Linked DNA regions of Homo sapiens: region 2 is linked to region 1. The links come from fine-mapping of genetic effects on gene expression. Tissue or cell type: lung. Region 1 holds a variant in brackets; the other region holds the start of a gene. All regions are shown on one strand. Distances are between the middles of the regions.

Region 1 (5,387 bases):
TTACTGTCCCATTTTAATGTTTCTCTGGGCCTAATAATTTAAAAAGACTCATATTCCTCAGATAAGCACTCTTTTCTTTTCTCATAAGTATTGGCAAGAATGTGAAGCAACTGAACACTGGGTATAAATTGGTAAAACCACATTAAAACGATTTTGGTAATATCTACTAAAGTTGAAGTACTCATACTCAGGAATTTTACTGTATATGTACATATATATATATATATATCCACATGTGTATATGTGCACCCAGAGATATGTAAAATATTCTTCATAGTAGCATTATTCATAATAGCCCAATCACAAACAACTCATTCAACAGAATGAATTTTCCTAAAAGGATGGATAAATTCACTGAATAAATGGAAATGAATTTGTTACAGCTATACAACAACATGGATAAAACTCACCAACATAATATGGATCAAAAGAGGCAAAACAGGAAAAAATAATCGAATATAATTTTATCTACATACAATTCAAAAGGAGGCAAAATAAAATTGTAGAGTTAAAAGAGGAATGCCTAGTGGTAAAAACATTTAAAACATCAAGGAAGAGATTACCATACATGTCAGGCTATTGCTTACCTTTGAGGGGGACCAAGGGATTAGTGATTGCAATGATGCACAGAAGAGCCTTCTGGATTGCTGGCTACGTTCTATTTTTTGACTTCGGTGGTGGTTTTACAGGGGTTCGCTTTGTAGTGAATTATTAAGTAGTACCTTCTTTTGTATGTGCTTTGCTGTATGTACATTTTATTTCATCATAAAAAGGCAAAACTTACATATAGAGAGAATTAAATTACACAACTCACCATATAAATTGGGAGTGGAGGAAATAGTGTTATAGTGTTTTTAGGTTGCGGTAATATTCAGAAAGAGGGTAAAGATATTGCTTAACGTAGACTTTGAGAAGTTAAGGACACTTGTTAGAACCTCTGCAATCATTAAAAGAATAGAAATGGGATATAGCTTTAAATAGAAGAAAGATAGAATGGTTTAAAATATATATCCAATATAGCCAAAACAGGAAAACTACCAAAACCTAAACTTTATTGTTTAGAAATACATACATAGTTGGGCAAATTATAAAGAAAGTCAAGTGAGGGGACTGACTATAAAAGTCAGTGCTTCCGATTCAGAGATATCACTCAAGGGGCAATGTTTTGTTTCTTCACTTGAATATTTTTTACAAGTATGTTTCTATTCATCCTTATTCACTATACTGTATATTTATATTTTATGCACTTTTTTGGATATGGGTTACATTTCAAAATTTGAAAGGTTTGTTTGTTTGTTTGTTTGTTTTGAGACAGAGCCTTGTTCTGTTGCCCAGGCTGGAGTGCAGTGGTGTAATCTCGGCTCACTGCAATCTCCGTCTCCTGGGTTCAAGCGATTCTCCCACCTCAGCCTCCTGAGTAGTTGGGACTACATGTGTGCACCACCACATCCAGCTAATTTTTGTAATTTTAGTAGAGATGAGTTTCGCCCTGCTGCCCAGGCTGGTCTCAAACTCCTGAGCTCAAGTGATCCCCCCACCTCAGCTTCCCAAAGTGCTGGGATTACAGGCATGAGCCACCGTGACTGGCCGCAAAATTTAAAAGGGTTTTAAAAAGGAAAATAAATTATTATAAATCACATTAATGGTGGAAAAGAGTAAAGTCACATGACCATCACAAATGGATGCAGGAAACATTTAAATAAAATTCAATATTTATTTATGTGTTTTAAAAGTCCTAGGAAACAAGGAATAAAAGTAAACATTCATTTTCTAATAAATGTTTATCTATTTATCTATCTACCTATAAGTAAATATGTATTCGTAAACAAGAACACAAAACTACTGCAAGTATCCTTAATGCTACATTCTTTCCCTCTGAGATCCAGAACAAGCCAAGGATGCCTGCCTTCACTACTTCTGTTCAACATTGTGTGTCCCAAAATAATAAGACAAGAAAAGAGAACTGAAAGACCTAAGGATAAGGAAAAAAAGAAACAAGCTTTTATTTCTTATGACATGGTTATGTATGTGAACAATTTTAAAACTACTAATTATTAAAATTGATAAGAGAGTGGTATCTCTTAATATGGTGTTTGGGAACTTTGGTTAAGTCAGTAAACCTGAACCTCAAACTCATTATTTGTTTAAAAAAAGAGAAAGGGGTGTCTTATCATACAATACTCCTCACGGTTGCTGTGAGGATCATAATCAGATAATGCCCTTGCAAATGCCAACCATAATGCTGCCCCATAGCAGGGACTCATTTGTTAAGAAACACTGAACATCTGCATGGTTAGCTCACCCTCTTCCTTCAGGTCTTTATTGGGAAGTCATTTCTCAGAGGGGACTTTCCTGCTTTATTTTTTTCTCCTTATCACTGCCTAATATACTATATACTAATGCTCATCTCTCTACTCAAATACAAGCTCCACAGGGGATGGTTTTTGTTTGTCTTATTTGAAGAATCACCCCTGCCTGGCTCATAGTAGATGCTCAACAAATTTGTGTTGACTCAACAGATAAATGGGTGCATTTCTTTAACTGGCAGGATCAACCAGGTATAAATGAGTGAATTTAGTGAGTCACCATCCTGCCCTGATCTGGGCTACTGCATTATAATAGGTACAGGTGTATTCATTAGTATACTAGACAGGGAGACCCTCGTGCTGCTTTTTAAACCTCACCACTTCTCTGTCTCTTCCCTGTGAGTTGGGGTGGGGTGGGGAGTACAGAATTAGTTAGAATTCGTAAGAAGGGTGATGGGGCACCCAAAAATC[G/A]AGAGAAGGTTCAGAAAGGGAGACATGTGAACATCGAAGGTGGACTCTGTGTATCTCAAGTTGGTGTACTGTGTCAGTGCTGGTCAGGGCATCACTTGCCCACTTCAGCAAAGGGCCTGTCCCCTATGTGATTTCCATGGAGACCTGCCAGTCCTGGACTTCTAGGCAGGGCCAAGATGAGAGGTCAGCAGAGCAGAGCAGGAATCAAAAGGTAGAGAAAGGGCATAGAATGATTTATATTCCTCTGTGTATAGACCCAGTAATGGGATTGCTGGGTCGAATGGTAGTTCAGTTTTTAGCTCTTTGAGGGACCATCATATTGCTTTCCACAATGGTTGAACAAATTCACACGTCCACCAACAGTGTATAAGTGTTCCCTTTTCTCTGCAACCTCACCAGCATCGGTTATTTTTTTTTCTTTTTAATGGTAGCCATTCTGACTGGTGTGAAATTGTATCTCATTGTGGCTTTGATTTTCACTTCTCTATCAGTGATATTGAGCTTTCATTTCATATGCTTGTTGGCCGCATGTATGTCTTCTTTTGAAAAATATCTGTTTATGTCATTTGCCCACTTTTTAATGGGGTTGTTTTTCTCTTGTAAATGTGTTTACCTTCCTTATAGATGCTCGATATTAGACCTTTGTCAGATGCATAGTTTGCAAATATTTTCTCCCATTATGCAGTTTGTCTGTTTACTCTGTTGATAGTTTCTTTTGCTGTACAGTAGCTCTTTAGTTTAATTAGATCCCACTTGTCAATTTTTGCTTTTGTCATGATTGCTTTTGGTGTCTTTGTCATGAAGTCTTTGCCCATTCCCATATTCAGGAGGGTATTGCCTAGGTTGTCTTCCAGGGTTTTTATAGTTTGGGGTTTTATATTTAAACCTTTAATCCATGACTTGATATGATTTTGGTTCTTTTGCATTTGCTGAGGATTATTTTATATCCAATTGTGTGATTAATTTTAGAGTATGTGCCATGTGGCAATGAGAAGAATGTATATTCTGTTGCTTTTGGGTAGAGAGTTCTGTAAAGGTCTATCCGATCTATTTGGTGCAATGTTGAGTTTAGTTCCTGAATATCTTTGTTAATTTTCTGCCTCAGTGATCTGCCTAATACTGTCAGTGGAGTGTTAAAGTCTCCCACTATTATTGTGTGTGAGTCTATGTCTCTTTGTAGGTCTCTAAGAACTTGCTTTAAGAATCTAGGTGCTCCTGTGTTGTGTGCATATATCTTTAGGATAGTTAGGTCTTCTTGTTGAATTGAACTCTTGACCATTATTATAAAATGCTTTGTCTTTTTTTATCTTTGTTGGTTTGAAACCTGTTTTATCTGAAATTAGGAATGCAGCCTGCTTTTTTTTTTGTTTTCCATTTGCTTGTTAGATTTTCCTCCATCCCTTTATTTTGAGCCTATGGCTGTCATTTCATGTAAGATGGGTCTCTTGAAGACAGCATACCATTGGGTCTTGCTTTTTTTTTATTCCAGCTTGCCACTCTGTGCCTTTTAAGTGGGGGCATTTAGCCTGTTTACATTCAATTTTAGTATTGATATGTATGTATTTGATCTTATTGTGGTGTCAGCTGGCTATTATGTTGGCTTGGATGGTGTGGTTGTTTTATAGTGTCACTGGTCTGTGTACTTCATGTGTGTTTGTAGTGATTGGTAACAGTATTTTCTTATATTTAGTGCTTTTTGCAAGATCTCTTATAAGACTCCCTCAACATTTGCTTATCTGAAAAGGATCTAATTTCTCCTTCGTTTAGGAAGCTTAGTTTGGCTGGATATGAAATTCTTGGTCGAAGATTTTTTTTGTTTAAGAATGTTCACTATAGGCCCCCAATCTCTTCTGGCTTGTAGGTTTCAGCTGAGAGATTTGCTGTTAGCTTGATGGTGTTCCCCTTGTAGGTGACCTGCCCTTTCTCCCTAGCTGCCTTTAACATTCTTTCTTTCATTTTGACCTTGGAAAATCTGACCATTATATGTCTTGGGAATGATCTTCTTGTAGACCCTTTAGGAGTTCTCTGTACTTCCTGAATTTGGCTGTTGGCTTGTCTAGCAAGGGTGGGGAAGTTTTCATGGATGATATCCTGAAATATGTTTTCCAAGTTGTTTGCTTCCTGCCCTCCCTTCCCTGCCCATTCAGGGATGCCAGTGATTCATAGATTTGGCCTCTTTACATAATCCCACACTTTTTGGAGGTTTTGTCCATTCCTTTTTATTCTTTTTTCTTTATTTTTGTCTGGTTTTCTTATTTCAAAGAACCAGTCTTTAAGTTCTGAGATTCTTTCCTCAGCTTGGTTTATTCTGCTAATTCTTGTGATTGCATTGTGAAATTCTTGTATTGTGTTATTCAGCTCTGTCAGATCCATTAAGTTCTTTTTTATACCAGATATTTTGTCCTTCAGCTCCTGTATCACTTTATCTTGATTTTTATTTTTTATTTTTTTGGATTAGGTTTTTCCATCCTCCTGAACCTCAATTATATCTGTTCCTATCCATATTCTGAATTCTATTTCTGTAATTCCAGCCAGTTCATCCTGGTTAAGAACTCTTGTTGGTGAACTGGTGCAGTTGTTTGGAGGACAAGGTTGTCCTCAATCTTGTTT
Region 2 (5,387 bases), 21 kb after region 1:
TTACCCCCACAACCTATTATTTTGAAGCAAATCTGAGAAATCATAAGACAGAATCTGTAAATGTTTCAGAATGTACCTTAAGAGCCAATTTCCTTCCTTCCTTCCTTCCTTCCTTCCTTCCTTCCTTCCTTCCCTCCCTCCCTCCCTCCCTCCCTTCCTCCCTTCCTTCCTCCCTTCTTTTTTGACAAAGTCTCACTATGTTTCCTAAGCTGGAGTGCAGTGCTGCGATCTCGGCTCACTGCAACCTCCATTTCCTGGGTTCAAGCGATTCTCCCACCTCGGCCTCCCGGGTAGCTGGGACCACAGGCACATGCCACCATGCCTGGCTAATTTTTGCATTTTTAGTAGAGACGGGGCTTCACTATATTGGCCAGGATGGCCTTGAACTCCTGACTTCGTGTTCCCCCCACCTCACCTACCAAAGTGCTGGGGTTATAGCATGAACCACTGCACCCAGCCAGAATTTCTTTATAAGATGTTTATAACCACAATTACATAGAACTCTTCTCCAAAGCAACAATAACTAGTTAATATTTTCAAAATTTGGGTTCATATATCTCTGATACTCCTATAATATTTTAGAGTCCATTGGAATCATGCTATGTAAAACGTTAACGAATCTGATACCTGACTCTTCATATCTCTTTCCATTTGATTTTTCTTAGTAACATTTGCCATTAATGTACTATATATTTTATTTCTTAGTGTGTTTAGTATCAGTTTGCCTGGCAGAACAATGCCTGGCATAATAAATAGCTATCAGCCAGGCGTGGTGGCTCATGCCTGTAATCACAGCATTTTGGGAGGCCAAGGCGGGTGGATCATGTGAGGTCAGGAGTTCAAGACCAGCCTGGCCAACATGGTGAAACCCAGTCTCTACTAAAAAATACAAAAATCAGCCGGGTGTGGTGGCAGGCACCTGTAATCCCAGCTACTCGGGAGGCTGAGACAGAAGAATTGCTTAAACTTGGGAGGCAGAGGTTGCAGTAAGCTGAGAGTGCACCACTGCACTCTAGCCTGGGTGACAGAGCGAGACTCTGTCTCAAAAAAAAAAAAAATCTATCAATATAATTGTTGAATAAATAAAAATCTTGGAGTTTGATAACAAATCCTTTATTTTGCTAATGCATTATGAAAAGTACAAGAATAAGACGAACTGGAGCCTTGTGATGTCTGGTAAACCTCGCCCTTCCCACACTTTTCTCTCTCTCTCTCTCTCTCTCTCTCTCTCTCTCTCTCTCTCTCTCTCCTCTTTCTCCACAATAGGCATGGCTAGGTGAGGGATGCACAAATGCATAAGAATGTAATGCTTTAAATTCCAATGAGAAAAAATAACCCCTGTAGACTGAAGAAGGCAGGAATAGAACACGCAGAATTCAAGGACCCACTGCAACCAAGGATTTCTCTGCTTATTTAGAGTTGCACTGAAAGCCTTTCCTAAAGGAAGTCTTAGTTTGAGGATAGAGAGTAAAGGGGACTACCGGACCTGGTGATCCCTGACCTCACTGGGGCTGACATTGCACGGAGGCAGAATTACAAGCTGTCATCAGCATGTGCTCTTGGAAATTATGGAAAGATTCACCAGTCCTATTTCAGGATACTCATTCAGAATGATAGTCTCAGCTTTTGAATTTCAGTCCTCCAGGGACAGACCTGGACTTCCAGAGGTAGGACTCTAGCCTCTTTTCAGGAATGTTACCTTCTAAAGAGACACTAAGAGATAGATTCCAGGGATGGTAGATTGATTTCCCTTGGGGATTCCCTTCCAGGGAGGTCTTGGGCTTGGAACATCAGCTCAAGATTTTAAGCAAGTCTCTCAGGAAATAGATCGCGGGGCTGGCAGTATGAGGTAATAGAGGCAGTTAGAAGGGAACTAGAGTAGGTAAATTCACACAGCCTTTGCAAAAGAGAGGTGGGTCCCATGGAGATAGAGCTTTCATCAGCTCGATTTACTGAGGTCCCTGCCATTCCTCACTCACAGTAAGGATTTTCCAGGCAGGAGGGCTGTGATCACAAGGGCAGAGCAGGGTTAAGTATGGGCTCACCGACCCCTCCTACTGACTGCTGGTAGTTTGGTAGAGCGAGGATAGATTATCCAATGGAGCACGAGGGAGGAGGGGCAGAGGGCAAGAGGGGATGGACAGAAGAGAAGACTGGCAGGATCCTTACTCCTACCTCTACCCACAGCCAGTGCCTTTGGCGCACTGAGGTGCACAGGGTCCCTTAGCCGGGCGCAGGGCGCGCAGCCCAGGCTGAGATCCGCGGCTTCCGTAGAAGTGAGCATGGCTGGGCAGCGAGTGCTTCTTCTAGTGGGCTTCCTTCTCCCTGGGGTCCTGCTCTCAGAGGCTGCCAAAATCCTGACAATATCTACAGTAGGTGAGTGCTTGGCCGGAGAATTCCCAGACAGGCGCGTCCCGGATACTCGCACTGCCAGGGCTCCAGAGAACAGCGCTTGATCAGAGTCATCCACGTGATTTTCCAGGCTGGGCTTGCGGACCCGGCTGGAGGAGGGAGAAGCCCATTCAGCTGTGGGGCAGAGAGGGGCCTCTATTGCTGAGGTGGGGAAGAAAGTTTTGGAGAAAAGAGATTCTCCTTTACTGTCTTCTTCCTGTTCAGGACGCGCCCCCATCCCGCAGGGCTGGGGCCAGAAATTTGAGACTCATCCCAGAGCTTGAGTTCCTGGGCTGCCTTCTCCAGGGCGCAGTGGGACTTTCAGAGGCTCACCTTAAGCTCCGGAGGGTGCGTGTGTGTGGGTGCACAGTAGCTTCCAGTAGAAACAGTGGTGAGCGTTTTCAGGCTCTTGGAGACCAGGGAAAGGCCCTCCTGAGGGCAGCACTGCAAATGTTGTGAAGCTGCATCCGGAGCCAGGGTGGCGCAGGCAGGTATTTCATGGCTGCAATGCCAGTGGAGTGTTTTCCACCAGGGGAAACCTGGAGAACTGCCGAGGGCTGAGGAGAAGATCCAGGTCATTCGCATCTTTTGGAGTATCTTTCCTTTTACCTGTGCCGCTGACCGTTATTTGAGGGATTCATGGGACTGTTAATTCTGCATTTTGGGTCTCAGTTTTACTTCTTTTACTTTTACCCCAAAGGGAATAGAAGATAAAAGAGAAACATATATGAACATAAAGGGATCATCTCAGGATCGAGCTTCCCCAAGACTTTATTTCAACCCATAGTGGGTTCTAATGGATTCCTTTTAGATCATGGAGAATTAGGGCTCGTAGGGCTGGGAAGAACCACAGATCATCTAATTTAGTGCCCATTTTCATTTCCTGAGAGGGCAATTGAAGGATGGGGAGTGAGATGCCTTCCTTAAGAGCACTTGTGGCCTCCCTGATGTCCCATGAGGAATTAACTCAGGGTTTTCTTACTGCAAGACCATGCTCACCACAACTTCCACTCTGAAGCCCTTTTCACTGGGGATTTTCAAAAATCACTGTTTAAGAAACAGTGCAAGTCCATTTGAAGACTTTTTCCCCCTCTTTCTGAGTGTTAGTAGCAGTGAAGCAACAGAGCTTCTTAACTTCTTGAAAGTACACAGCCCTCCTTCCTCAGGCTCCAAGAAGGAGTTGATGTCATTTCTGAGGTGCTAGAATGCTGATTTTTGCCCCAGAAAGCCACCTGACTCCCCAAGATCCACCGCTAACAGCTGTTTCTGTGGGGACCCCTTCTTCCCAGCTCCCTGTTCTTACGTGGATTAAAATGTGAGCAAGACCTGTTGCAGATTTGTACTTTATACGTCCCTTGTTGCTCCAGACTATTCAAGCCTGGGTATAAGTAAACTGAGTCATTCAGAGAGCTGAACACTACTTCTCTACTCCCTTCCACCCCCACCCCGCAGGCTTTTGGTATTTACTATTACATTACCTTCTCTTCTGATCTTCCTTTCTCTGCTGCTGAGAACCTTAGATTCAAGCAAAGGCTGTGTATTAGAACATGTACTGAGAAGACATTGATTTCGTGGAACTTGTACCTCTTTTGAGGATCAAGCTTCTCTTTCCTTAGGATGGATGTTTCTGGAATCAATGATTCCCTAGTCTCTCGTGCAACCAGGATCCAGCAGGCCCACCCCAAGCGCCCCACAGTTGTCCTCAAATGTCTTAATTAGAACTTGATCATTGTGTGGCCTAAATTAAGTACATCCTTTCAAAATACATTGGAATCTTAAGGATTTGGATTCTAAGTAGTGGCCCCTCATTCCTTCTGTTCCAGTGATGATTTCTTGGACCAATCTCTTAAGGTTTCTATCTCCTACAGCAGCAGAAATGTCCAAAGAGCAGGATCCCAGAAACAGCTCTCATTGTTTTTTAGGAACTATTCACACTCATATGTACAACACCATACCTGTATTTCCACCAGTGCCGTGATTTCTTTTGGACTCTGTGTCTCCATAAGGCCTTAGTTAAAATATACATGTACCTCAGGATGAGGAACTCCCATGGCTAAGCACATAGTAGCTCATTACACTGACATGGATACCGTGATTCACAAGAGGCAATCTCTCACGGACCAGAGCCACAGGTAAAAATTTGGGCGGCCATGCTCTGGGTGAGTGGGCTGGGTTTTACCCAGAGGGACATGAGGAGACTGGCAAAACTCATCTTCCTCCAATCACTATCCACTTCTGTTTCCTTACCTTTCCTCTCCTGGATTGATCACTACTGACTTCAGACACTGTATTCTCATCATTCCAGAACTGAAGTTGTGCATTGTTCCTAGGTGGAAGCCATTATCTACTGATGGACCGGGTTTCTCAGATTCTTCAAGATCACGGTCATAATGTCACCATGCTTAACCACAAAAGAGGTCCTTTTATGCCAGGTATCTTTTCTCACTTTTCTTGATTTCTCCTACTCCAAGCAAAGAGCAAAATGCTGTTTGCATAGAAAGGCTTAGCAAAATGTTTTTTAAAAATCTAATTCAATTGGAAGGATGAAAAGCTTGTGTGTGTGTGTATGTAAAGTGCCAAAAAACTTCTTAGTCTCTAATTACCGGGACCTGACGTTCCATACTCCCATATTTTTTTTTCCCCTTACTTGACTTCTACTCCATCCCAAGCAACCATCCACTCATTATTATGGATTATTTTAACAAATACTACTTTATAAGATGGCTTAAAAAATATATTAAACATGGTGGGGCAAGGTGGCTCACACCTGTAATCCCAGCACTTTAGGAGGCTGAGACAGGTGGATCACTTGAACCCAGGAGTTTGAGACCAGCCTGAGCAACATAGGGACACTCTGTCTCTACAAAAAATACAAAAATTAGCTTGACATGGTGGCACCCACTTGTAGTTTCAGCTACTTGGGAGGCTGAGGGTGGAGGATCGCTTGAGCCAGGAGGCAGAAGTTGCAGTGAGCTGGGAATGCACCACTGCACTAG

What was found.
Region 2: it holds the start of UGT3A2, and the variant in region 1 is fine-mapped to the expression of UGT3A2 in lung (TOPMed, PIP above 0.99). The same link has a PIP of 0.9 or more in blood mononuclear cells.

The regions. Positions count from the first base shown.
Region 1 is chr5:36,084,315-36,089,701 of GRCh38, reverse strand. No RefSeq gene overlaps it. Among named protein-coding and RNA genes, the nearest start is that of UGT3A2, 20 kb to the right of the region's middle. The variant G/A (reference allele first, on the strand shown) is at 2,778.
Region 2 is chr5:36,063,685-36,069,071 of GRCh38, reverse strand. It overlaps UGT3A2 (UDP glycosyltransferase family 3 member A2), which reads left to right and starts at 2,190. Exons shown (of 7, transcript NM_174914.4): 1 at 2,190-2,376; 2 at 4,722-4,823. The coding sequence starts at 2,283.